Linked DNA regions of Homo sapiens. The protein of the gene in region 2 interacts with the protein of the main gene of each other region in a biochemical or structural test. Each region holds a gene or a part of one and is shown on either strand. Other genes may lie near its edges.

The links.
Region 1: the proteins of GORAB (region 2) and ARF3 form a complex in vitro, tested with the Homo sapiens proteins (one study listed by BioGRID).
Region 3: the proteins of GORAB (region 2) and ARF1 form a complex in vitro, tested with the Homo sapiens proteins (one study listed by BioGRID).
Region 4: the proteins of GORAB (region 2) and SCYL1 form a complex in vitro, tested with the Homo sapiens proteins (one study listed by BioGRID).

What each region holds. Positions count from the first base shown.
Region 1 is NC_000012.12:48,947,480-48,954,505, forward strand, and holds part of ARF3 (ADP-ribosylation factor 3), read right to left. Parts: intron 1-7,026.
Region 2 is NC_000001.11:170,542,145-170,549,170, reverse strand, and holds part of GORAB (RAB6-interacting golgin), read right to left. Parts: intron 6,681-7,026; coding exon 6,579-6,680; intron 4,467-6,578; coding exon 4,326-4,466; coding exon of another isoform or gene 4,322-4,325; exon of another isoform or gene 3,380-4,321; intron 1-3,379.
Region 3 is NC_000001.11:228,092,682-228,099,707, forward strand, and holds the end of ARF1 (ADP-ribosylation factor 1), read left to right. Parts: intron 1-4,396; 5' UTR 4,397-4,433; coding exon 4,434-4,581; exon of another isoform or gene 4,582-4,660; coding exon 4,661-4,771; intron 4,772-4,909; coding exon 4,910-5,034; intron 5,035-5,170; coding exon 5,171-5,332; 3' UTR 5,333-6,531; downstream 6,532-7,026. UniProt on the Homo sapiens protein: Small GTPase involved in protein trafficking between different compartments. Modulates vesicle budding and uncoating within the Golgi complex. In its GTP-bound form, triggers the recruitment of coatomer proteins to the Golgi membrane.
Region 4 is NC_000011.10:65,528,061-65,535,086, reverse strand, and holds part of SCYL1 (N-terminal kinase-like protein), read right to left. Parts: intron 4,459-7,026; coding exon 4,300-4,458; intron 3,512-4,299; coding exon 3,404-3,511; intron 2,396-3,403; coding exon 2,282-2,395; intron 1-2,281. UniProt on the Homo sapiens protein: Regulates COPI-mediated retrograde protein traffic at the interface between the Golgi apparatus and the endoplasmic reticulum. Involved in the maintenance of the Golgi apparatus morphology.

The DNA.
Region 1 (7,026 bases), on a different chromosome or scaffold from region 2:
GCATTTTTAGTAGAGACAGGATTTCACCATGTTAACCAGGATGGTCTTGATCTCCTGACCTTGTGATCTGCCCACCTCTGCCCCCCAAAGTGCTGGGATTACAGGCGTGGGCCACCGTGCCTGGCCTCATTCATCAAACATTTATTGGGCATACTGAACTAGGGATACAGAGAGGGAGACAGTTTCTGCCTTCATGAAACTCAGTCTTTAATGGAAAAGACTAGTGAAGACAGGACTACAAAACAGTGTGAGAGTAAGAGTAAAGCACATAGTATTATGTGAACAGAAAGCTGGAGCAGTAAATCAACACTGAAGGGTAAAGGGTGATTCTGAAACCTAATTCTCAGGTCATACCTGAGCTGGCTCCTAAAGGAAGACGAGGAAGTAATCAGACAATAAAGAGGGAGTTGGGCAGGGGAAGTGTGTGCAAAGGCATAAAGACTGAGCCAGGCACAGCAGGACACACCTGTAATCCCAGCACTTTGGGAGGCTGATGCAAGAAGATTGCCTGAGGCCAGGAGTTCAAGGCCAGCCTGGGCAACATGGCAAAAGCCCATCGCTACAAAAAAAAAAAAAAAAGCTGGGTGTGGTGGTGCACGCCTGTAGTCCCAACTACTCAGGAGGCTGAGACAAGAGAATCACCTGAGCCCAGGAAGTTGTGGCTGCAGTGAGCCATGATCACGCCACTGCACTCCAGCCCAGGTGACAGAGTGAGAGAATATGTCTCAAAAAAAAGAAAAAGAAAAAAAGACCTAAGTTTCAGATAGCACTTTAAAAAAATTTATATAATCTTTTTTTTTTTTTTAAAGAGATGAGGTCTCACTCTGTCACCCAGGCTCACTGCAGCATCCAAATCCTGGGCTCAAACAATCCTACTGCCTCAGCTTCCCCAGTAGCTAAAAAGACCTACGGGCCCAAATCATCGTGACGCAGCTAACTTTTTTATTTTTATTTTTGGTAGAGATAGAGTCTCACTTTGTTGACCAGGTTGGTCTCGAACTTCTGACTTCAAACGATCCTCCAGTCTCAGCCTCCTAAAGTGAAGAGTACAGGCAAGGTGTGGTAGCTCACGCCTGTAATCCCAGCACTTTGGGAGGCCGAGGTGGGCGGATCACAAGGTCAGAAGATCAAGATCAGCCTGGCCAACATGGTAAAACCCCGTCTCTACTAAAAATAGAAAAATTAGCCGGGTGTGATGGTGTGGGCCTGCAATCCCAGCTACTCAGGGTGCTGAGGCAGGAGAATTGCTTGAACCCAGGAAGCAGGGGTTGCAGTGAGCCAAGATCACATCACTGCACTCCAGCTTAGGTGACAGAGTGAGACTCGGTCTCAAAAAAAAAAGAAAGAAAGAAAATGATGAGGGATGGGGCTGGAGAGATAAGCAGGGACTGGATCATGAAGGGCTTTAAAGGCCATGCTGAGTAACGTGATCAGGTATGTGCTTTAGAAGTTTCAGGAGTAAATTAGAAAGGGGAAAGACTGGAGGCACAGACACTGCTTAGGAGGTATAGTAATACAGGTGAGAAATCGCAAGTTGTCAACTACAAGTGGAGATAGAGAGAAGAGGACAGATTTGAAACATCAAAATGGTAGAATCCACAGGATTTAATGAGTGCTTAAATGTACGCAGAAGAGTAGAATAATCAAAGATGATTCCCAGGTTTCTGGCCTAGGGCTGGGTGGCATTTCTTCAGAAAGAAAATACAAGAGGAACAGATCTGAAGGTGAATATGTATGTTTGTTTGTTTGTTGTTGTTGTTGTCTGAGACAGAGTCTCGCTCTGTCGCCCGGGTTGCAGTGCAGTGGCGCGATCTCGGCTCACTGCAAGCTCTGCCTCCCGGGTTCACACCATTCTCCTGCCTCAGCCTCCCGAGTAGCTGGGACTACAGGCGCCCGCCACTACACCCAGCTAATTTTTTGTATTTTTAGTAGAGACGGGGTTTCACCATGTTGGCCAGAATGGTCTCGATCTCTTGACCTCATGATCCACCCACCTCGGCCTCCCAAAGTGCTGGGATTACAGGCATGAGCCACTGCACCTGGCCTGAACATGTTTGTTTTTATTATTACTGTTGTTTTTAGAAACAGAGTCTCACTCTACCACTCAGACTAGAGTGCAGTGGCATGATCATGGCTCACTGCAGCCTCCATCTCCTGGGCTCAAGAGATCCTCCCACCTCAACCTCCCAAGTAGCTAGAACTACAGGTGTGCATCACCATGCCTGGCTAATTTTTAAAGTTTTTTTGTAGAGACAAGGTCTTGCTATGTTACCCAGGCTGGTCTCGAACTCCTGACCTCAAGCAGTCCTCCCACCTCAGCCTCCCAAAGTACTGAGATGACAGGCATGAGCCATTGTGCCTGGCCCCTCAATCTTAGAAAAGGACCTATGGCAATGTTCTCTTGTCCAGCCTTTGGATGTTGATGATGTAGAAGGATGAGAAGCTAGAATAATCTGGAGACCATAAAGAGAGGGAGACAGACATTAAAAACTCCAGGATGTCAGAGCAGAAAAATGGGAAAAACTCAGTTGGGTCCTTAATTACAGTATCAAGCTGGTAAACTAAACTTTTTCTTTTTTAGAGATGGGGTCCCACTATGTTGCCCACGATGAAATACAATGGCTATTCACAGGTGCCCTCATGGTGCGCTACAGCCTCAAATTCTTGGGCTCACGCAATCCTGAGTAACTGGGACTATAGGCATGCACCACCACGCCTGGCATCTTTCGTTTTCTGAGATGGGTCTTGCTCTGTCACCCAAGCTGGAGTGCAGTGGCGTGATAGTGGCTCACTGCAGCCTCCACCTCCCAGGCTCGAGCAATCCTCCCACTTCAGCCTCTGGAGTAGCTGGGACTACAGGCATGCACCACCACGCCTGGCTAATTTTTGTTTAACTGAAGTTTCGCCATGTTGCCCAGGCTAGTCTCAAACTCCTGGGCTCAAGTGATCCGCCCACCTCGGCTTCCCAAAGTTCTGGGATTACAGGCATGAGCCACTGTACCCGACTGGCTTCTTTTTTTTTAAATCATAGTAAAATATACACAAAATTTACCATTCTAACCATTTTTTTAAGTATACAATTCAGTAGCGTTAAGTACATTCACACTGTAGTGTAACTATCACAACTATTCATCACCTCAACTTTTTAATCTTCCCAAACTGAAACTGTACCTGTTAAACAGAGGATCCCCAATCCCCCTGTCCCTCCAGCCCCTGGCAACCACCATTCTCCTGTCTCTATGAATCTGTTACTCTAGGTACTTCATAGAAGTAAAATTGTACAATATGTGTTCTTCTGTGTCTGCCTTTTTGTTTTTTTTTTGAGACGGAGTTTTTGCTCTTGTTGCCCAGGCTAGAGTGCAATGGCGCAATCTCGGCTCACTGCAACCTCCATCTCCTGGGTTCAACCGATTCTCCTGCCTCAGCCTCTCAAGTAGCTGGGCGATTACAGGCACCTGCCACCACGCCCGGCTAATTTTTTGTATTTAGTAGAGACAGGGTCTCACCATGTTGGTCAGGCTGGTCTCGAACTCCTGACCTCAAGTGATCCACCTGCCTCAGCCTCTCAAAGTGCTGGGATTACAGGCGTGAGCCACTGCACCCGGCCTATGTCTGCCTTTCTACTAGATGTCTTGCTATATGATTTAATAAATCCTCTCAGCGTTTTAGACACGTGTGTTTTCTATTTTTGCAACTAATACATCCTAACTGATATATCTAGGGATAGTGTACACAGTGGGATAGAAGAAAAGGGCAAAGGCAGAAACCTGCCTGACATTTCAACATTTAAAGTAGTGGGAGCCAGGCGCGGTGGCTCATAGCTATAATCCCAGCACTTTGGGAGGCCAAGGTGGGCGGATCACCTGAGGTCAGGGGTTTGAGACCAGCCTGGCCAACATGGTGAGACCCCATCTCTACTAAAAATACAAAATTAGCTGGGCATGGTGGGGCATTCCTGTAATCCCGGCTACTCAGGAGGCAAGACTGGAGGACTGCTTGAAGCCAGGTGGTGGACGAAGGTTGCAGCGAGCTGAGATTGCACCATTGCACTCCAGCCTCGGTGACAAGAACGCAACTCCATCACAAAAATAAATAAATAAATAAATAAATAATAAATAGGCCGGGCGCGGTGGCTCATGCCTATAATCCCAGCACATTGGAAGGCCAAGGCGGGCGGGTCACCTGAGATCGGGAGTTCGAGACCAGCCTAACCAACATGGAGAAACCCTGTCTCTACTAAAAGTACTAAATTAGCCAGGCGTGGTGGCGCACGCCTGTAATCCCAGCTACTCCATAAGCTGAGGCAGGAGAATGGTTTGAACCTGCGAGGTGGAGGCTGCTGTGAGCCAAGATCGTGCCATTGCACTCCAGGCTGGGCAACAAGAGCGAAACTCCGTCTCAAAAAAAAAAACTAATTAAAATAAATAAATAAATAAATAAAATAGCGGGCAGAAAAGCAGGCCAGGAAAGAATAAGAAGCAACCAGAGAGGCAGAAGGGAAATCAAGAGAGCAAGACATCATAGACACCAATGGGGATAGAACATACAAAAGAAAAGAGGGAGGATCCAAAGCTAGAGTTTTGGTGTAAACTAAAACGTACCTAACTAAATAAGTTCCTATTAGCTCAATTAGTGGTGTTTAGGCTCAGGCCAGAATTGTTATGCCAGCTTCCCATCTAGGCAAAGAACAATCCTGGAAAAGACTCCAGGACACGCAAACCTGAAGGACGCCACAGCTGTGAAGTGAAGAAGGATCCCGAACCGCCCTGTCTGATGGAGACCCAAAACGCCTGGGAAGGGTCTGGCTTTTACCACAGACAACCCTTAGCAAGTGAGTCAGAAAAGATGACAAGGTCTGTTTTAGAATCCTAGTCAGATAAAACAGTGACAAGATAAAAACTAGACTCATTTGTTTCTTTGGAACATTCTGTGGTACTGCCCTCTGCCCAAAAATTACAGCTTGCCTTGTTCTTAGAATCTGACCAGCTTACAACCACTACAGCTCCTGATATTCTATGGCTGTACCAATCCAATGCCCACCTCTACAGTCTTGGATATCCAGAACACTATAAATTCCTAATCACAAAATCACTGAAAGTCCATCAATAGCCTAGACTCCTAATAATCTTCTGCCCCTAATCTGGTCCCATTGTGCAAGTCAAGATGGAGCTGACAGTAAACTGCTTAAACAGGAAGACATGATGTGGACAAGGCCAACCATTATACAGAGCAGCCTAAGGACACAGAGGAACAGAGAACTGCCTACTTAGGGAATAAGAGTTACCTGCGATCCCTCGGCATCCCAAACACACTTCTACTCTAGGACTTGCTGCAGTATTCACGTTTGTCTGTTTTGCTTTCCAGAGCTGCAACTGCCCAATGTGCCTCTAGTGCATTACAGGTCAGCTGGAGATACTGATCCTATCAGCCACTGGATGGCTGGGCAGGGCTTGGGGTGGCTACAGCCCTTGGGCCAGCCATCTCAGATTTCAAGTCTCACTATTACCATTTTTTGTGTATACCATGATGAGAAAAAGGCTGGAAAGTACCTCACTAGACTGTGAGCTCTTTGCCAGCACAGACTATGCCTTATTCATATTTCACGTCTCCAGCATCCAGCACCAATGACTGACCTATAGCTAGTGACTGACAGGCGTGTTGAGAACGGTTCTACTGAGGGTGGCAAAACACTTGTGGGGTTGAAGAAGACTGTATTCTATAGGTGGTCTCTGATCCTTTTCCCTGTATCTGACAAACTGAAGAAATGGTTTCCATGTCCTCAGAGCCCACAGGTTCTGCTTGAAGAGAGGAGAGATCATGTGAGGGGCTGTAATTATACCCCACCCCCATTTTCCACCACCAGTAGAGAGTAACTCCACTTTTGTCCATTTTATGTATTAGAATTCAAATAAAATTTTATTTAAGGTTTGACTATTTTTTTTTTAAAAAAAGGACATAAACCATTGCAACAGAGAGCAAATGCTCTCCTACATCTTAAGCTCATGCTGAAGTTTAAGCATTCACGCTTGACACTCCTGTGCATAAGCTAATAAAGGAAGGATTATGCCAGGCTTTCAGCAGTAATGGGAGAACTAAAAGGTACCAAGAGACCTGCCACACCCAGTCATCTCAACTTTCTTCAGGAATATGGTAATAATGGTGGATCTCTAACATTCTGAGCCATTTCCTTTCTGGTCCACATGGTGTGGCAGATCCTTTGCATAAGTCCATGGTAAAGCTCTAACACATTCATGAAATCCCTACTTTAGTCAGTTCTTTACCAGACTATAATATGAAACCTTCAAACATCTGTGGGACCCTTTCCAAACGCTCCTCATGTCTTTTCATTATCAAATAGTTTTATTAGCACTCTATCTATATTTGCAACAGATGTTCAAGTGAAGAAGGTACGGTAGACAGATAATTCTACAGATATCACAATTTCTAGGCCATGATATTCTGAAACAGATACTCAAAAGCAGACATTTTTTATTAAGATTGGACTAAATGAAAAGAGTGGACTAAATGAAGATCCCCATATACTGACTGAGACCTAAAATAAGGGCATCTAGGAATCTAAATCCCTGACCTAGGTCATCAGGGTGCTCTTTTCTGGAAGAGTGAACCATTATCTCAGAGTCACACTGACTTTTCTAATATGAATACTATTCTTGTGCCCCCATATCTTCACCCTACATCCAAATTGATGGTTCAGGGCCCCTGCCTTGCTCCAGCTTCACCTCCCACTCAGGCAGCAGGAGCTGTCTCTGCGATGCTGATGCTGAAGCTGAAAAAAGATTTCGCTGCTCATAAGCCTACGACCAGCACAGAAACTCATGGTAACAATCATCCCTCTACACAAGCACCTCAGGCAGCAAGTTGTTCTTCTGTAAACCTCTTTTCCTCTAAGGCAGCCCTGAGTGTTCATATTATTAGGATTATGATAATGGATTATTAATAGCAGCTAACAGTTATTTGGTACTTACTATATGCTTTGTACAATACCAGGTGCTTTACATTTATCTC
Region 2 (7,026 bases):
TGTTATTTTAAAGGGGGATGGAATGAATTAATGAATGTTATTTTTAAAGGATTCTAGAAATTGTCTCTTTGTTTTGGTATCCCCTGAAATGTTTAAAAACTCAACCATTAACCCTCAGTATACCACTGGGTTCCACGGGTCCACTTTTAGTTTTTCAGTTCCTTTTCTGAGCAGTTCTCACTATTTGTATAAATTAGCATTTCATAATTTTTATCTTTTCTTAAGTCTTTCAAATAATGAGAAAATTTACTTATTTAAAAAAACAGAATAAAATAAATTATATTTTGCAATTACCAGAGAGGTCCAAAGAACCCTTTCATAAATCTAAGATATATTATAGGATTATTGCAGTATTTTTATATTTCCTGTATCTTGAAACATTTTGCCATTTCATCATCCTAGGAATTATTTCATCATTACTTATCAATTATTCCCTTTTGTAATAAAAAGAAATTAAAATAAGAAAATGATCTGAAAGGATGATGCAATAACTTATCATTGTTGAGCTTCTTTACTGTGCTGTACAAAGTATCATGTCACCTCCAGAAAGTATAAAAGAAGACTGAAAACACCATTTTTGTAACCTGTTTTTAGTTTTCATTTTCTGCCTATCCAGTATTTGCAAAGTGGAGACAACTGACAGAGGAAGACATCTTGCCACTGTTAAAGAAATCAAAAGATGAATGGTGTGGTAGGCTAAAAAATGGCCTCCCAAAGATATTCACTTTCTAATTCCTGGGACCTGTGAATATTACTTTCTATGACAAATGAGTGAAAATTATCTTATATGGAAAAAGATGTGATTAAGATAAAGGTTTTGAGGAGTTTATTCCAGATTATCCAGCTGGACCCTAAGTGTAATCACATGCATCTTTTTAAGAGAAAGGCAGAGGAAGTTTAGAGAGAGAAGAAAAAGCAACATAACTATGGAGGCACAGAATGGCATGGCGTGGCCACAAGCCAAGGGATGCCCACAGCCACCAGAAGCTGGAAGAGGCAAGAAATGGATACCTAGAGTCTCTGAAGAAATCACAAATCTGACACCTTGATTTTGGATATGTGGCCTCCAGAAATGAAAGAGAAGTAATTTCTGTTGTTTTAAGTCACCCAGTTTGGATTACTTCTTATGGTAGTCTTAGGAAACTAATACAAATGCAGAGACACATTCTAGAGTCTAGATGATAAAATCGATCATATGTGAAATCTCAGATGAGTCTTCAGCAAAACATATCCTAGGTGAATTTTCTCAAACTTAAGAATCAGTCAGTAAAAAATATATTTCTAAGCATAGAAAGGAAAAATGATTTTATCATAGAGTTAATCATTTCAGCAGGGAGAACATACACCCAATATTTTACAAGTATCTAGACTATCTTGTGTTGCTACAAGGATGTAACTATACTCTCTCAGCTTTTTATGTTTGTGAGTCAAACATTACTTGATACAAAGATGGTTACCATGCTTACATTCTTATTAAAATTTTAAAGTTGTTTTACACAATCCCTTTTAATCTTACTTTTAAAAATTACTCATAAAGTGATTTAAAAATATTCGTCTGTGGGTGTATGTTTGCATGTATGAGGGTGTCTATGAAACCTAGATGGTCAATAGTGATTTAAAAAAATGTTCTACATGCAGCCACTCTGGATTTTATAAACTGGTCTGCACAGCATATGGCAACATTGTAATCCCAGTGGTGAACAGTAGCAGTAGTAGCAGTAGCAGCAGTAGCAGCAGTAGCAGCAGTAGCAGCAGTAGCAGCAGCAGCAGCAGCAACTCTCTCAAATTGGCTCAAAGTGCTAGTCTTCTCAGAGGTGTCTATCCAAACACTGCTCTACAGAAGCCAATTTTAAAGCAAGTTCTGGCCTATTCACTATCCAAGAACCTTTTGTGGACATAGCACTGTACCAAATACTATAGAACTAAGATATCATTTTTATTAAAAAAAGAAAAAACAAGGAAATCTCCCATAAAAACTGACTGTCCTAGGGATTATCTTTCACTTCAAATCTGGACCATAATATTATTTTACCGATCTGTAATTTCTCAATAACCACAAATGCAAGTTTAGAAAATAATACCTTAATCTTACGCATGAACAAGACACACTACGGTTCTAGTCACCAAAGTCTTTGTTTCCCTTTGACTCAACGCAAGAGCTTCGGCTTTTGAAAATAGCAGCACATGGCCAGGCGTGGTGGCTCACACCTGTAATCCCAGAACTTTGGGAGGCTGAGGCAGGCGGATCACCTGAGGTCAAGAGTTGGAGACCAGCCTGGCCAACATGGTGAAACCCCATCTCTATTAAAAATACAAAAAATTAGCCAGGTGTGGTGGTGGGCACCTATAGTTGGGCTACTCAGGAGGCTGAGGCAGGAGGATCGCTTGAATCTGGGAGGCGGAGGTTGCAGTGAGCCAAAATCGCACCACTGCACTCCAGCCTGGGCAATAAGAGTGATACTCCGTCTCAAAAACCTAAAAATAAAAACAAAAATAGTGGCACACAACATCTACTTACATTCAACTACATCAATATTAGTACCATGAGAAACTGTCATCTGTAACTTACTAAAGATTTAAAAATTTACTAAAATTTCATTTAGGATACTTATAGACTATAGGATGTTTTTTCCTTTAGTAATCCCACCTTCTTTGTTGTGGTTCTTAGAAGGCTAAAACTATGACATTTCTTATATAATACTGAATATGAAAAAGCGTCTTTCTCCAGTTTCCACTAGGACAAAATTAAAATCAAATTACTTTTCTTTCTTTTTTTTTTTTGAGACGGAGTCTCGCTCTGTTGCCCAGGCTGGAGTGCAGTGGCGCAATCTTGGCTCACTGCAAGATCCGCCTCCCAGGTTCACGCCATTCTCCTGCTTCAGCCTCCTGAGTAGCTGGGACTATAGGCGCCCACCACCACGCCCAGCTAATTTTTTGTATTTTTAGTACAGATGAAGTTTCACCGTGTTAGCCAGGATGGTCTTGAACTCCTGACCTCGTGATCCACCTGCCTTGGCCTCCCAAAATGCTGAGATTACAGGCGTGAGCCACCGTGCCCGGCCTCAAATTTCAACTGAGGTACCTAGTACTTCTACCTTATAATATGAATTATTCATATAAAAGGCTACAAAGGCATAAAAATGTTCCTCTGGCAAACTTATGTTACAGAGAATAAAATGTGCTACAAATCAAGGCTTAGTTTAATCTTAAATAAAATCTCTGTTATCTCCCTTAATGACCTTATTAATGGAAACCTGGAACCTCTGGTTATCAGCTACTGATGGCATTCTTTTAAGTAGTTAATTAATAAAGACAACTCTAAGTCTAATAGCATATGGTCCAACAACAATTACAAAAGTCACAAGGACAACCACAAGACTCTTTCTTAAACACTCAACAGTTTATTAAAAACCACAATCAAGCATTTCCGCTTTAATAAATTGTTATATAAACATTCTGATGTTGTGGTTTACCCTGGCCTAATGAGGCATTCTGATTCATTTCTAGTGTAACAGAGTAAGATAGAAAACTGAGTCATTAACACAGCATTCCCTTGTGAAAAAAGACAAACCAGGATGATTAAAGCAATGTTGAAAGGGCTGAAAACCCTGAAATTGGACATATTTTTTTGCCCTTTTATCTGTCTGCAAAGTCCATGTAATTCATTACATGTGTTAGTTCATTTTAAAAATACTCCATGGTATTTTTTCTCTTTTAAAAAATGCCAATGGTTGAAACCAAGGAAACATATATTAAACCATTTCATACAGAGTATAATTGAAAGGAAAAAAAAAGAGAAAATATTTCAAATTTCCAAGACAGAGGATATGCTTAAAATATTCATAAGCTTTTAAAAACTAAACTAGATCCTCTTACTCTGATGAAAGCTAAAGTGAGGACTAGACTTCAATCCTATAGGACTATATCAGATATCAAAAATTTTAATGGAAAGAACACAGACTTGGTGTCAGAGTAACAGTTTTGGCGAAACCACTCAGATATTTACTTTGCTAGATGCTGAAAGATGAGCAAAAACACTTCCAAACATTAAATAGCTGAGGGTTTCGCAGCAAAGACTAAAACGTAAATAAATAATGCAAGAACTGCTCTAATGGCACACGAACAAGGTTAACTAGTAGGGCAGAGTTAAGGAAGACTTCACTGAAGAGGAGACACTTGAATTAGCACAAAAGAAGAATAAATACAGCACTGAATGGGGTTGTTTTGAGGCTTCAATGATGATATACATAAAAGCCCCTGGAACAGCTGGCAATAAACATTAATTAAATCATACTCCTTGTTCAGATTCAATTTCCCCAACTCACCGAGCGTATGAATAGTCTAAGCTGGCCTGATCAATCCGGTTCCTGAGAATTCCAATGTCAGCTGACACCATGTCATCTAAAGCCTGCAACTCCTTCTGGATCCGCTTTAGTTTCATGGTCTCTGCCTGAGTTCTTTTGGATCTAGAAAATCAGGTATGTGAGTGGGAAAATAAGAACATTTTAAAACCATGTGTCCATATACAATGTAAGTGAAAAAGCAAGATACTGCATATACATTTATAATTTATATTTTAAAAGTTAGAAAAAAATCAGAAAAATTGAAATAAAGTAAAAGCTGGTTAACATTTGAGTTTTTGAAATTTTATATTTGCATGTTTCATAAAGTAACAAATAAGTCTAAAAAAACTCAGCAAATAGTTCATTTTAGATTGATATTCATTCTGTAAAGAGAACAAACACTAAAAGAATATATCTGTGTTCCCTTTACATTGAAACATTCAACAGAGCTTTCCAAATTTCTAGTCTTTAATTCTTCCTCTTGCTAAGCCCATTTTCATTTGTCTGATACTTACCTGACATTAAGAACAGATAGATGTCTATACTAAACCACACCTCTTTATATATCTGAGAACATCCACTTAGTTTTAACTTTCTTGGGACCCATTTCCCCAAACTTTTATTGCTTTGATTCTTGTTCTCTAGGAAAACTACTAGTTACGAAAATTCTTTATGGAGCTGAACATCAAAACACTCATTTTCCTTATTTAAAAGCACATCCAACCTCATAATTTCTCAATCCCCTCTCCCAAGTACAATATATACTTAAGAAAGGGAACAAACAAATAAAAAAGCAACCCTTTAATCATGATTTCACTCATTTCAAATTTTCACACACATTGTGAAGGAAGAAGAAAAATCCCCACATAAATCCACCATGTTACATAGCACATTCTCTTGATTTCTACTCTTAGGCATTTACCCTTCCTTTCTGCCTACAAAACTTCACTTAACAGTATGATTCTTTTACGTCAAGTACTTCATTGTCCATTTATTAATAGTTCAAACGTTGTATTTCCTTACACTTCTGTTTATACTGGTGCTGTCTAAAATCAAAAGCACTTATGAGAAGAACTGCTGAGCCTGTACATCTTTTTGTAAAACCACAGAAAACAGCCTTCCCATCTCTTAGAAATTGAAGACTACTAAAATGCTTTAATTATTTTTAAATAATCACTTACCAAAAAAAAAAAAAAAGAGGGCACTACTCTTTTATCTGCTGGTTTTTTCCTTTGAAACATAGTAACTCAGTGAGTTGCATTATTTCCTATGCTTCAAGAAAGATCAAGGTGTACCAGTAGTAGAAAAAGAAAAATCACCATTTCTCAACTACACTCACTCCTCTGGCAGACAAAATTCTGAACTACTCTTATACCCATCACCTTCTTCCCTCTTCTCCTGCCCCTACACATACTCTAGCTTCAAGCAGTAACAGTTTGACAGACTTTTCTGGAAGTCTAAAAAGAAAATGTACTTCCTTGCATTTAGTTTTCACTATTCACAACCATGGATATATTGACTAAGTTTAGTTTCCTAAGGCCACAGGAGATTAGACAGAAACTACAAACTCAGCAAGAGTGGTGGGGGATGGGAAGAATGATTCCAATGGGAATGTTGTTGTGTGCGGCTGGTACAATGCAGTAAATGTGAAGGGGCTGCTGATAGACACTGGAAGGTGAAAGAAAAATTGAATCTCACACAGTGCTCATAATAATGACCCTGAGTCATCAATAAAAAGTTAAACTATATCATGTATCTTCTACTTGTGGAGGCGGGGCAAATTATTTAAGAAAAATGCCCATAGGAAATCCAATTAAGATTCATGGGAGTATGTCACTTATGTAGAAAACCTTATTCCTCTACACATCAAATGATTAAGGCCTCCCCACATAAAAATTAAAACTTGCATTTGTTGCTAATTTACATATACTGATAGCTATTTACTGCTTCCCTTATGAATGTGTAGATGGTTAAAACTGGGAGCACTAATGAAGGTCTTTAAAACTGCAACTATATTTACAAATTTAATATGCTCTATGCTTAAAAAGTTCTCTTTAATAAATTATAACTAGTATTTCAGTATCACTTATAAAGCATAATTTGTTTAGTTAGTCTTAAAAGTAATGGTTGAAGAAAAAATATCAGTTTATTAAAAGAGACATGGGAAAACAAATATAACACATGACACAACTGGTTACAGGTTACAAACAGCCTCTCCTGGTTCAGGTGCCTCACCTTTCTGCAATAGCTTTAGCCAAAAGAGCTTTTTTACGTTTATTTTTCTCTTCCATTAGCCGTTGTTCTTGTTGGAGGACTTCCCAACGAGATTTTTCTTGCCTAGGGGGCAAAAAAAGCATAAAAATGAGTTTATGAAAGAAAAAGAAACTGCTACCCTATCCAACACCTTACCAGTCTCAGTCCTCTAAGTATAAAATTTAATCAAGAAGATTTATGTATATGTTCTTTCAAAAGTCCTCTTAAAAGAAACCCATCTGCAGTTCATTATTTTGCTCTAATGGGAACAAAGACTACGATCTAAAGTAAAGAGGCTTACATAAATTGGACCTCTGAAATCCATTATATATATAATCTAGGAATCCACAAACTGGAAGCCAGAATACTGTGGCATGTGTTTAGGAGTACAAAGAAATTTGTGTAAGTTAATTATGTATTATATGCAGAA
Region 3 (7,026 bases), about 58 Mb from region 2:
TGCGCCTGTTCCCTTCCCTGACTCATGCCAAAGTATCCCTGAGATCTGCAAGGGACCGAGGACAGTACTGGCTGGTGGTCTGGGTACAGGCCACAGAGGCATCTGGACCCCATGTGCATCTGGACCAGTTTGGTTGGATCCATTCATGGACACAAAACGGATGTGAACTCACAGAGCTACATTTTCTCCCTGCCCCTGTTCAGGCACAGTGAGGTGTCGGGGAATGTAGCTGCCAGAGTTGACTGTCCCGTTCTTTGGTGTAATGCCTGAAGGCCACCTTTACCATTGGTCTGTGGTCCTCACTGAAGAAAGAAACATTCTTCCTAAAAGACTTTTTTTCCTCAGAGTTGGAGCCCACAGCGTGGTCAGGAAAGAGAAGTAGCCACTGGTGGCTCCTGGCATCCTCCTGCTGGGCAGCCCCTTCTCAAAGTGTGAGGGGTCCCCTTGTGTACAAGCAGGAAGGCTCTGAGAAAGTCAGGTTTGCTCCTACCACAGGATAATTCCGATGAACCTGAAAAGCGGGTTTTGGCTTGTGTGCAGGGACTCTGGTGGAAGAAAGGGTGACAGCACCTGGCCTGGGCATGACACAAGTTAGGACCCGTACCAAGAGGCCCTGGAATTGAGGGTGGGGGTTGCTGTGGACTCTTTCTCCCTCTTAGGAAACTCTATTGGGTCTCCATCTGTCACAGAAGCAGTAAATGATGTAGGGGCTGCCAGGTATAGGGTCCTGTGGGGATGCTGGAACATGCCGAGGCAGGACGTGCCAGCCACCCTCTGCCCATATGTGCAGCAGGGCCACAGATGTGCTTGTCGGTAGGAGAGACCAAGCTGTCTGTGTGCCGATGTCTTGACACCTGAGACTTCAGGTTCACCCATCCTGGTTCTGCCATTCCATTGCAGGGTGGCTTCCCTCCTTTGGGGACTCTTAACGCTTTGGTCTGTTAAAAAAAAAAAAAAAAATCCGGGCGTGGTGGCTCACTCCTGTAATCCCAGCACTTTGGGAGGCCGAGGTGGGCTGATCATCTGAGGTCAGGGGTTCGAGGCCAGCCCTGACCAACATGGTGAAACCCCGTCTCTACTAAAAATAAAAATAAAAATTAGCTCAGCGTGGTGGCACGCGCCTGTAGTCCCAGCTACTCGGGAAGCTGAGGCAAGAGAATCTCGAACCTGGGAGGCAGAGGTTGCAGTGAGCCGAGATCGCACCTGAGAGGTTGCAGTGAGCTGAGATCAAGCCACTGCACTCCAGCCTGGATGACAGAGTGAGACTCTGTCTCAAAAAAAAAAAAAAAAAAAAAAGCCACCAATGGGGAGGGCCTGGGATTACTGGCATCACAAACCCCACTGCCTGCAGGCTGCATGATCTCCTGGGCATGGTTGGCGGCACTGCCCCGGGCATGAGGAGGCAGCAGGCATGTGTGGATCACGGACAGTGCTGGGGTCGAGGGGGTTGGTGACGGTGTGACACCCCTTCCCCTGAGTGGCTGGGTGTTACTGTCAATTCTCCCAAGTGCTGTGCTTCAGTGGTCGTGGCAGTCTGGTGCTGCCTCTGCCCAACTGGCAGGCGACCCTTATTCCTGAGTCCCTGCTGACTTGGTGTCCTAGGTTTATTCCTCCTAGACTTGTTAACTTGTACAGTTAACAAGCCTTTGACACCACACACCCTCGCCTCAGCTTTCCAACCCCCTAGTAATAACAACATCAGGACTCCCTGAGTATCCTCCACCATATGTTTTCCTGGAGTAACTCATAAAAGGCCCTCTTTTCGTTCCATTTCATGCTTGGGTTTTTCATGCGAACCTGTCATTATTAGTTTTTCCGCATTGCCTAGAGTTGCCCAACCCCATAATAAGAATACGTAGGTGGCGTGCCCCATTCTTGCAGGTGTCCACTTCCTGCTCCAGTCTGAGGGGGTTGGCTAGGCTGCTGCTCTCTCTCCATGTGGGGTTGGCTAGGCTGCTGCTCTCTCTCCACGTTGCTGTGGGCTCGCATCCTCTCCCTGGTTCCCTGGGGGAGCTTCTTAGGGAGGGAGCATGTGAGAGATCTGAGGCCCTGCAGTTTGGGAGTTATTTTCATTCTCCCCTAACACTTGTTGGATACTTTGGCTGGGTATAGAATTAAAGGGTTTCGAAAGCAGTGTTTCAGAGTCTTCCATTCTCTGGGGCATCAGAGGTGTCATTTGCCCCTGTGCATTCTGGAGTCCACCTTGCACCTTTATTGGGTCTCATCTAGGTCCTTGGCTTTGCGCTTCAGCCCTTTGAGGCCGAAGCCCAGATTCCTGGGTCCCCACTCTGGAACAGGGAAAAATTTCACCCCGTAATTTCGTACGTTCTTTCTTTTTAGGGTTTCTGTTGGTTGATATCTTAAGTTACTCCTCATCTTCCTTTTTCATTCTGTTTGTTTTTGTTCTGCCTTCTGAGCACCTTCATTTTGAATTTTCCTTTTCAGCTATTTGTGTATCTATCAGGTTTCTCTCCTTGTCCTTTGTTAAAATAGTATTCTGTCTTCAGTCTCCTGTCTTGGTTGCCTCCTTGCAGATTCCTTTTATATTTGGGTCTCTTATGTTGGTGGCCTTTCAAAGGCAGACAGGCCTGTCTCTTGGTGGGGGGTGGGGGTGGGCGGAGCTCCAGTTGCTTGTGTGTGGATCTGCTGGGGCATATAGAACTCTCAGGAATTATTCTGGAATTTCATGGCTCAAGTGTGTTGTCATGGCTCAGCGCAGGCCTAAGCCCTGCTGCAGCTGCTCCCCTAGACCAAGCTTGTCCAACCCTTAGGCCGCATGTGGCCCAGGATGGCTTTGAACCCGACCCAACACAAATTTCTAATAAAACATTGAGATTTTGGGGGTTTTTGTTTTGGTTTGGTTCACCAGCTGTTGTGTTAGTATATTTTGTGTGTGGTCCAAGACAATTCTTCTTCCATTGTGGCCCAGGGTAGCCAAGATTGGACATTGCTGCCCTAGGCAGTCCCAGCTTCATCCCTTGGGTCCCAGGCGGTCCAGTTTTCTCTGCCTGGTCAATCATCACATCCAAGGTCTTCCTCCCTTTTCTCTCTGCCCTTCAAGGCGTGTGTGTCATTTTGGTGTCTTCATTGGTAGTGGTTGCAGGAGTGGACTGAGAGGGCAGGTATTCAGTCTCTTCTGTGCTCCATGGGTGGTGGTCTTCCTCTGGGCTTAGAAAACCTGGCCGTCCCCAAAAAGGGAACACTACAGTGAAGGTCCTTATAAATTTCAGAACTCATTTAAATTTCAGAATAGGTGACATGTTCAAAACCAAGAGCAAAGTGTCCAAAGGACACTGATCCAGCTTGAAGGGGTTCTGTGGCTCATCTGGGATGATGGCAGTGTTAAATCAGACACGGGCGGCCAGTTCACACCCACTGAAACACACAGGCATGTGTGGGCTCTTGCTGATGTTGAGAAATGGAGAAGAGGCATTTCCTTGCCGTAGCGTGCTGGGGTGACTGGATGAGAGAGTCACCAGCGGACAGTCATGGCTGTGATTCAGCCAAAAGCCACCTGTGTGTGGAACCCCTGGTGGAGGAGGTCTGATGAGGGGTGGGTGTGCTCACAGGCTCCTGGCATGTCCTCTTGAAGGCAGAAGCCTTCCTCACTCGGGGTAAGCCCCGCTTGCGGGTGCAGTGAAGAAGCAGTCATTGTTTCAGAAAGTGACCAGTGTTTTCTAAAGTCCCTGTTCGGGATAAAATCACCTGATTCGTGAAATTGCCCACTGGCCAGTGAGGCCAAAGCCTAACAACTTCAGTGTCCTCACAGAGGCGTCTGGGCAGTGGAGGCCCTTCCTGCTGGAGTCTCCGCAGGGCTCTGATGGTGGGTGCCAGCTGACTTAATTGCTGTCCCCGATATTTGTGTTCTGCTGAGGGAACCCCTACCCTTGCGGTGTGGGGCAGACATGGCGGGCGTGCCCCATCGAGGCTGTGTCCTCATGGGAGTGTGTCCCTGAAGGTGTCCTGCTGAGTCTGGCGTGGCCCTGTGTGCTCTGGTCCTTGTGAGTGTGGGCAGGCACAGTGAGTGGTGCTCTCTGGCCCTGGAAGGTTCTGTGTTGGGGTGTAGAGGAGCCTTGCACGCACCTGGAAGCCAGTCCTCAGGCAGCCAGCCTCCCCTCCTGCATAGGCTGGGATGAGGCAGCCTTTCTGGCCATGCAGCTGTGGGGACAGCTTCCCAAGATGAGGGCAACAGTTTCTCAATTCCTGACTCAGCCATTTTCCCTCAGCCCCCATCCTGAGGTGGATTTGGGGGGCATGGGAGGCAGGGCTCTTTCCCTGTTTCCCTGCAGGCTTCCAGGAGGTGGGGTGAGGCAGTGGTGCATCCCTGGGTGGGTGGGTTCTGAGCAACCACTGCTGGGCAGCACAGAACCAGACATGGAGCACCTTGTCTCTCCAGGTGTCCCTGGCCAGTGTCCTTCCACCTGTCCACAAGCATGGGGAACATCTTCGCCAACCTCTTCAAGGGCCTTTTTGGCAAAAAAGAAATGCGCATCCTCATGGTGGGCCTGGATGCTGCAGGGAAGACCACGATCCTCTACAAGCTTAAGCTGGGTGAGATCGTGACCACCATTCCCACCATAGGTGAGGTGGGGGCCAGCAGGGAGTGGGCTGGGCTGGGCTGGGCCAAGGTACAAGGCCTCACCCTGCATCCCGCACCCAGGCTTCAACGTGGAAACCGTGGAGTACAAGAACATCAGCTTCACTGTGTGGGACGTGGGTGGCCAGGACAAGATCCGGCCCCTGTGGCGCCACTACTTCCAGAACACACAAGGTAAGTGGCTGGGGCCTGGTCCCATGGGCACTCCTGCTTCTAGAGAGGGGGGGCCAGCCCATAGATGGGGCATCGATGCCCATAGATGCGGCAGGGGGGCTGTGTTCCCATGACCATTTGACACTGGCTGCCCGGCAGGCCTGATCTTCGTGGTGGACAGCAATGACAGAGAGCGTGTGAACGAGGCCCGTGAGGAGCTCATGAGGATGCTGGCCGAGGACGAGCTCCGGGATGCTGTCCTCCTGGTGTTCGCCAACAAGCAGGTAGGCGCCCGGGCCAGCCTGGGGAATGTGAGGAGCCAGTGTGGGTTCCGCCTGGTGGTAGGGGTTACTGGAGGCTGGTGGGGCCCCTTTCTCTGTCCTGTGGACAGCCCTTCCCACCAACCCTTCCTTCCCCCAGGACCTCCCCAACGCCATGAATGCGGCCGAGATCACAGACAAGCTGGGGCTGCACTCACTACGCCACAGGAACTGGTACATTCAGGCCACCTGCGCCACCAGCGGCGACGGGCTCTATGAAGGACTGGACTGGCTGTCCAATCAGCTCCGGAACCAGAAGTGAACGCGACCCCCCTCCCTCTCACTCCTCTTGCCCTCTGCTTTACTCTCATGTGGCAAACGTGCGGCTCGTGGTGTGAGTGCCAGAAGCTGCCTCCGTGGTTTGGTCACCGTGTGCATCGCACCGTGCTGTAAATGTGGCAGACGCAGCCTGCGGCCAGGCTTTTTATTTAATGTAAATAGTTTTTGTTTCCAATGAGGCAGTTTCTGGTACTCCTATGCAATATTACTCAGCTTTTTTTATTGTAAAAAGAAAAATCAACTCACTGTTCAGTGCTGAGAGGGGATGTAGGCCCATGGGCACCTGGCCTCCAGGAGTCGCTGTGTTGGGAGAGCCGGCCACGCCCTTGGCTTTAGAGCTGTGTTGAAATCCATTTTGGTGGTTGGTTTTTAACCCAAACTCAGTGCATTTTTTAAAATAGTTAAGAATCCAAGTCGAGAACACTTGAACACACAGAAGGGAGACCCCGCCTAGCATAGATTTGCAGTTACGGCCTGGATGCCAGTCGCCAGCCCAGCTGTTCCCCTCGGGAACATGAGGTGGTGGTGGCGCAGCAGACTGCGATCAATTCTGCATGGTCACAGTAGAGATCCCCGCAACTCGCTTGTCCTTGGGTCACCCTGCATTCCATAGCCATGTGCTTGTCCCTGTGCTCCCACGGTTCCCAGGGGCCAGGCTGGGAGCCCACAGCCACCCCACTATGCCGCAGGCCGCCCTACCCACCTTCAGGCAGCCTATGGGACGCAGGGCCCCATCTGTCCCTCGGTCGCCGTGTGGCCAGAGTGGGTCCGTCGTCCCCAACACTCGTGCTCGCTCAGACACTTTGGCAGGATGTCTGGGGCCTCACCAGCAGGAGCGCGTGCAAGCCGGGCAGGCGGTCCACCTAGACCCACAGCCCCTCGGGAGCACCCCACCTCTGTGTGTGATGTAGCTTTCTCTCCCTCAGCCTGCAAGGGTCCGATTTGCCATCGAAAAAGACAACCTCTACTTTTTTCTTTTGTATTTTGATAAACACTGAAGCTGGAGCTGTTAAATTTATCTTGGGGAAACCTCAGAACTGGTCTATTTGGTGTCGTGGAACCTCTTACTGCTTTCAATACACGATTAGTAATCAACTGTTTTGTATACTTGTTTTCAGTTTTCATTTCGACAAACAAGCACTGTAATTATAGCTATTAGAATAAAATCTCTTAACTATTTCACCGGCTCTCCAGTGCTTCCACACAGGCATGCTGCCCCCAGGAGATGGTGGGTGCATCAGCCAGCTTTACTCTAGGAAGTACAGGTGACTGCCTAGGGCCGCCACCTCAGTCCACACCCTCCCCATGTTCCCTCCTGAGTGTGCAGGCACTTCTCTGTGTCTGTGTGAGAGGCTCTTCCAGCATGGTTGCCCACAGTGACCTTGATCTCGTTTGCAGTCCTGTCGGGCCCAGCCAATGAGACCTGGGCCATACAGGGCAGGGGTCAGCAGGCACCATGGAAGACCTCAGCCTCCGTCCTTCCCTCCATCGGCCTGCTGCTGAACCCCACTTTGTATAGCTGGCTATGGGGCAGGGCCACTGCTAGCATACATAGGGCTTTGTGCCAACCAGGGAATGGTCCCTGCCTGAGTGGGCACAGCCCCCACCTCTCCTCAAGATGCCATGCAGCAGGGGGCTGCCAGTCTGGGGGTACCTGTTTCTGGGATGGGGCCATCA
Region 4 (7,026 bases), on a different chromosome or scaffold from region 2:
CCAGCATGTTGAAGAAAGGGACCCCATTTCTGTCCCCCTTTACAGCAAAACCTCCAAAGTCTGTCTGCACTCCTGTTTCCCATTTCCTCTGCTCTGCTCTCCTGATGGCACTCCACCTAGACTCACACAAACAGCCCCACACTCTGCCAAACTGGCTCAGGGTGAGGTCACTGATGCCCTCCCCGGTACTAATTTCAACAGCCAGTTCTCCATCCTCACCAAACTTGACCCTCAGCAGTTCTGACACCCCTGAGTTTTCCCTCCCTGAAACTTTGGTCTCTGGTCTTCCAGGACACCACCCCCTCCTGGTTCTCCTCTGACCTGGCTGGCTGCTCCTTTTGCTGAGACTCTAACGTTCACACACCCGGAGCCAATCTAGAGGGCTCTTTTCTATCTAACACTCTTGCCCTAGGTGATCTCAGCCATTTCATGGCTTTCAATGCCATCTTGTGAGCTGACAACCCCCAGGCACATACCCCTAGCCCAGACTTCCCTAAATTTCACACATGCATAACCAGTGGCCAACTCGACATCTCCATCCAGCTGCCTAACAGAAACAGCCAAGATGGGGCCCAACATGCTTGTGTCATCTCAGTAAATAGCAACTCCTAACCTTCCAGTTGCTCAGGCCACAAGCCTCAGAGCCACTCTCGTCTCCGTATCTTTTTTGTTTCTGAGATAGAGTCTCACTCTGTCACCCAGGCTGGAGTGCAGTGGTGTGATCTCTACTCACTGCAACCTCTGCCTCCTGGGTTCAAGCAATTCTCCTGCCTCAGCCTCCTGAGTGGCTAGGATTACAGGCGCCCACCACCATGCCTGGCTAATTTTTTTAATTTTTATTTTATTTTATTTTTTTGAGACGGAGTCTTGCTCTGTTGCCCAGGCTGGAGTGCAGTGGCGCGATATCGGCTCACTGCAAGCTCCATCTCCGAGGTTCACACCATTCTCCTGCCTCAGCCTCCCAAGTAGCTGGGACCACAGGCGCCCACCACCATGCCCGGCTAGATTGTTTTTGTACTTTTAGTAGAGACGGGGTTTCACCATGTTAGCCAGGATGGTCTTGATCTCCTGCCCTTGTGATCCGCCCACCTCAGCCTCCCAAAGTCTGGGATTACAGGTGTGAGCAACCGGGCCCAGCCATTTTTTGTATTTTTAGTAGAGATGGGGTTTTACCATGTTTTACCATGTTGGCCAGGCTGGTCTCAAACTCCCATCGCCTCAGGTGATCCACCCGCCTCGGCCTCCCAAAGTGCTGGGATTACAGGCATGGGCCACCAGGCCCGGCCTAAAATAATTTCTTAAATTTTGAGATGAGGTCTCACTCTGTTGCCCAGGCTGGAATGCAGTGTCACGATCACAGCTCAATGCAGCCTCAACCTCCTGGGCTCAAGCTACCTACCTGCCTCAGCCTCCCGAGTAGCTGGGACTATAGGCGTGCATCACCATACGCGCCTAACTTTTGTATTTTTTTGTAGAGATGGGGTTTGGCCATGATGACCAGGCTGGTCTCCAACTCCTGGGCTCAAGCGATCCTCCCACCTCGGCCTACCAAAGTGCTGGGATCACAGGCGTAAGCCACTGCGCCCAGCCCCTGACCACTGTTTTTAAAACCACAAACTCTTCTCCCCACACTTTCCAACAATGCATATTTTCTTTCTTTTTTTGAAACAGAGTTTCCCTCTTGTTGCCCATGCTGGAGTGCAACGGCATGATCTCGGCTCACTGCAACCTCTGCCTCCCAGGTTCAATTGAGTCTCCTGCCTCAGCCTCCCGAGTAGCTGGGATTACAGGCATGCGCCACCATCCCCAGATGGTTTTGTACTTTTTAGTAGAGACAGGGCTTCGCCATGTTGGTCAGGCTGGTCTCGAACTCCTGACCTCAGGTGATCCGCTTGCCTCAGCCTCCCAAAGTGCAGGGATTATGGGCGTGAGCCACCGTGACCAGCCAACAATACATATTTTCTAATTCTGTTGTATTGTCTGGCAAGCCCACCCTCTGTGCCCTGGAAAGGAAGCTCCATGAGTGCAGGGGGCTGGGCACCTCATGCATGCTGCCTCCCAGCATGGGGCTTGGGCCAGGAACAGGCAGATGCTCGTTGTCTGCTGAATGGAGGACGTGCTCCCCCGCCAGCTGCCGAGCTGCACCCACGGCCTGAACCCACACAGCAAGGACAGTGTCTGCTTGGACCCATGGGCCAAAGCCAAGGCCTCTGTGTCTAGGGTGAGCCCCTCCAAGCCTTGGAAAACCAGGGGTAGCCACTCTGGGCCTGGCCACACCCACCTTGACCGTCTGCTCCCGGATGGCAGGGTTGGTGTCCAGGAAGCCATGTACGACGTGGGGGAAGATCTGGGTGTTGACTGTTGGCTCGTCAAGGTACTGGATGAACTGCTCCATCTGTGGCCCAGGTTGGGATGCGTCAACATGGTCAGCCCTTCCCACTCTATCCCCATAGCCATGGAACCGCTCCTGGCTTAGCTTTTCCACCCAGCAGGCACTGGCCAGCCAGGTCAACCTCCTGAGCCACCACCCAGGTGTTTGGCCTCAGGCCCAGGTGGAGGAGTGAGGAAAGGCCAGGAGGGCGCTAGGAAGGCCTGGCTCATAGTCCGGCTCATCTGGCCACCCTCTCAGAGCCTCTTCTATTTTTTTTTTTTTTTTTTTTCTGAGACAGAGTCTTGCTCTGTCACCGAGGCTGGAGTGCAGTGGCGCAATCTCAGCTCACTGAAACCTCTGCCTCCCAGGTTCAAGCAATTCTCCTGCCTCAGCCTCCTGAGCAGCTGGGATTACAGGCACCCACCACCGCACCTGGCTAATTTTTGTATTTTTAGTAGAGACGGGGTTTCGCCAAGTTGGCCAGGCTGGTCTTAAACTCCTGACCTCAGGTGATCTGCCTGCCTCGGCCCTCCCAAAGTGCTGGGATTACAGGCATGAGCCACTGCGCCCAGCCTGAGCCTCTTCTATAAATGAGGGTATCACCCCTTCCCTGCTCCTCCCCACCTGCCCACAGTGCCACGAGGAGGACTGGTGTGTTTGGTGGTCACAGAGGGAATGGCACTGGGAGCCACTGGTACTTCCTAGATCCCATCCATCTTGTCTGATGCTCCCAGCTGCCCTGGGGTTGCAGGAGAAAGACTGTATCCCCACTCTAGAGGGCCAGAGTGACTGAGCCAGGAGAGGAGGGGGCATTAGAGCGCTGCAGCCTGGGCAAGCTGGCCATTCCCAAAACTGCCAAGGAGCCCTGTATGTGGCCAACTTTCTGAGAGCCTGGCCTCATTGGGTCCCTCAGTTGTGTGTATGTTCAGGGGTGGGGTTTCTGGGGTCCCTGTGCAGCCAGGGCAGGTGCCTCCCCAGCCACCAGGTTGGGGTCTGGGTGGACCACCACAGAGTCTGGTACAGAGGCCTCACCTGCTGCAGGAGGCGGATGCGCATGGCCCGGTCAGTGGATGAGAACATCTTGACCACCACAGGGATGATCTTCTGCTGATACTCCTCAGCGCTCAGGAACTTGCCCACCTGAAAGGGCAGGAAGATGGGTTCAGCTGCTCACAGGAATGGGCTGACTTTGCTGGGCTTATCTAAATTCCTGGGGCTGATATCCCAGGGTGGGAATGAAGTGATGGCGGAGGGGGGGGCAGGCATTTCCTCAGTAGCTCCTCTACCCATATTCCATCTCAGCCTTGCCCTTAACCTTTCTGGGCCAAGGCCTCTTTCAGGAGGCTGATGAAAGCTCTGGGCCCCTCCCTACAAACAGGTACCTTTATGCCATATGCAGAAATTCTGCCTGCAATTTCTGGGGGTTCTCAGCTATACAGGACTTGCTTGTTGTCTTCTCCCCTCCTGACAAGTCTTTCAGATGAAAGGGTTCTCCCCAAGGTGAGGAGGGCAGGGAATGCCAGGTGCCCATAAAAAGGCGGGCTGGGGTCTGAGGAAAGGGTGGAAGATCCAGCCCCCAGAAGTCAGGTGAGCTGAGTGCTAAGCAGTCAGGAGGGAGGAGGGCAAAGTGGGGTGGTGAGTAGGTAATCCCCTGGGCCCTGGGAACCAAGGTGCACAGGTCAGACCCGGAGAAATGGAGGAAGGGCTGAGGGTTGTGAAGCCAGAGGTTTGTGGAAAAAAGGATTTTAGCGGCAGAGTCTCTCCTCCCCAGGGGACAGCTGGTCAGGTACCTGTTTATAGACACTGGCAGGAAGCTCCTGCTCATATGGGCTTGGGTCTGCCCTAAACAGCCTGCCCTACCCCAGGGCCTTCTCTTTGGCAGTTCCTGTGCACCCAGCCAGCCTTCTGGACCCCACAGTTCCACTCACCTTGAAGAGGGGCGTGAGGACAACGGCCCCAGCATTGCCGAACTCGAAGGCGGTCAGCAGCTGGGGCAGCACCTTGTGCCGACAGAAATCCTCAGGGAATGCGTCCAGGCTCTTGCTCAGCTCCTGGAAGAATTTTTGCTTCTCGGCTGGCTCTTTGATCTGGGGGAGTGAGGACGGGACCCGGGGAAGAGATCAGCCTGGTTGCAGCCCAAACCCAGCCATGGGTGAGGACAAGGAGAAGTGATGCTTATGGGCCTTATGGGCTCTGGAGCCTGGCTGCCTGGGTTCAAAGCCCAACTGTCCCACTTACCTGCCATGTAAAATGGGATAACAGCTCTACCATCTACGGGATAGTTCTGGGATTCAACCAGAAAATGCACATAAAAGCTGCAGAACAGGCTGGCACACGGCAGATGCTCGGTGGGTTAGGGACTGTTGCTGCCATTGCGGCTACCTGACCTGTTGCTGGGAGAGCAGCCACTAGGGACAGCAGAGGCATCACTAAGGGCATCAGGCCCTTTATCAGTGTTGCCTCTACTGCTCGCCACCCAGGATGTGAGCACAGAGGAGGAAACTGAAGATCAAAGAGGTGAAGGGGCTTACTTGGTTTCCCTGCCCTGGCTGGATTGGGCAGGAAGTTCCTGGTAGGCCGTGGGAAGGCAAGGATTAGGTACACTTTACTCCCAGACCTCATCCTCCCACTGAGCCAAAATGGACCAGCCTGTAAGCTCAACGGTCTCCTTTAGTCCTCCTAACCCCCCTTTGAGGCCATAATACCCCCAATTCATATTTCTGGAGCACAGATTATGTGCTAAAACCTTTACACAGATTATCTCAGTCCTCTTCACAACTTTACCAGGTAGGTGCTAATGTAATCCACATTTTACCAACAAGGAAGCTGAGGCACAGAGAGGGCAAGGAGCTTGTCCAAAGTCACACAGCTAAGAAGCGGTCAGAGGAGGGTCTGACTCACTGGTTTGGCACCTCTCCTGTGCTGTACCCTTCAAAAGATGCTGTCACTCCCCCCATTCACAAAGGAGGAGACAGAGGGTCAAGGTCAGCAGCCAAGAGTGGCCAGGCAGGGGTCATGACCCAGTGTTGTGTTCCAAAGTCCCTGTGCTCTCTGTTGTACCACCACCCCCATAGCCGCGGCTTGGCCGGGGAGAGGCGACCTCTGGCTTGGGACAAAGAGGACCTAGATGGCCCTTGAGCAGCTCAGACCAGCGTGGGAGGCCGGCTTGGTGCTCTGATCACATGGTTCAGCGGGGCCAAGGCCCAGAGAGGCTAAATCACATCCAAGGTCATACATCAAGAGAGTAGCAGCTGGGTTCTCCCCACCACTCCACCTAACAATGGGAAGAGGGGCCCCTGGGCACTGCCCTCCCATGTTCTCCTGGAGGCTCCCGAAACCCTATTTCCTATGGGGTACACTTTAAGGAGAAGGGTAGCTTGGCAGAGCCAGCCGTACGAGGAGAACTCCACGTAACAAAGTTCCTGCTGCCCCGACACTGCCCAGGAGGCAACGGGGTCTCAGCGTTTCCAGCAGCTTCTCCTTCCAGGTTTCCACCCTCCAAAGGCCCTCCCCGCCCCACAGCATCTGAGTCAAGATTCCATGACCTCTGCTGGGTCAGGGTCTGTGGAGTGTCTGCCACTCTCCTCCCCTGCTCCTGATTCTGATTCTCAGCCCCCGCTGTCTTCCCCACACACGGCTGGGGCCGGGCATTGCATAGAGCAGAGCCTTCCTCCCTCCTCCCTACAGCAACCCTGCAGGCCAGTGCACCCAGATGCTCCTCACTATACACATGTGGAAACCAAGGTTCAGAGGCAAAGCAGAGGGCTCCCTCCTCAGTATCTCTCCACGTGCTGTCGCCTCTGCCTGGAACTCTTACTCCAGGTACCATCCCTCTGGCTCCCACAGTCATGTCCTTCAGGCCCCAGCTCCAATGTCACACTTCAGAGAGCCCATCCCTGAATACCCACTCCAGTACTTTCCTTCCTGCACTGGATTTTTCTTTTCTTTTTTTTTAAGACTGAGTTTTGCTCTTGTTGCCCAGGCTGGAGTGCAATGGTGCGATCTCGGCTCACTGCAACCTCCTGCCTCCCAGGTTCAAGCTATTCTCCCGCCTCAGCCTCTGGAGTAGCTGGGATTACAGGTATGCGCCACCATGCCTGGCTAGTTTTTTGTATTTTTAGTAGAGACGGGGTTTCTCCATGTTGGTCAGGCTGGTCTCAAACTCCTGACCTCAAATAATCCGCCAGCCCCGGCCTCCCAAAGTGCTGGGTTTACAGGCGGGAGCCACCGCACTGGCTGGTTTTCTTATTTATGGTGTTCTTTTGTTTGTTTTGAGACGGAGATTTGCTCTTGTTGCCCAGGCTAGAATGCAATGGCACAATCTTGGCTCACTGCAACCTCCACCTCCCAGGTTCAAGCGATTTTCCTGCCCCAGCCTTCCTGAGTAGCCGGGATTACAGGCATGTGCCACCACTCCCGGCTAATTTTTGTACTTTTAGTAGAGATGGGGTTTCTCCATGTCGTCAGCTGGTATCGAACTCCCGACCTCAGGTGATCCACCCGCCTCAGCCTCCCAAAGTGCTGGGATTACAGGCGTGAGCCACTGCACCTGGCTCTTATTTATGGTTTTTATGTTTTCTGTCTCTTCCCCAGCAAGAGTTCCCAAGGTTGGGGATCTGGTCTGTTTACTTTTTGCTAGATTCTTGAGGACAGTG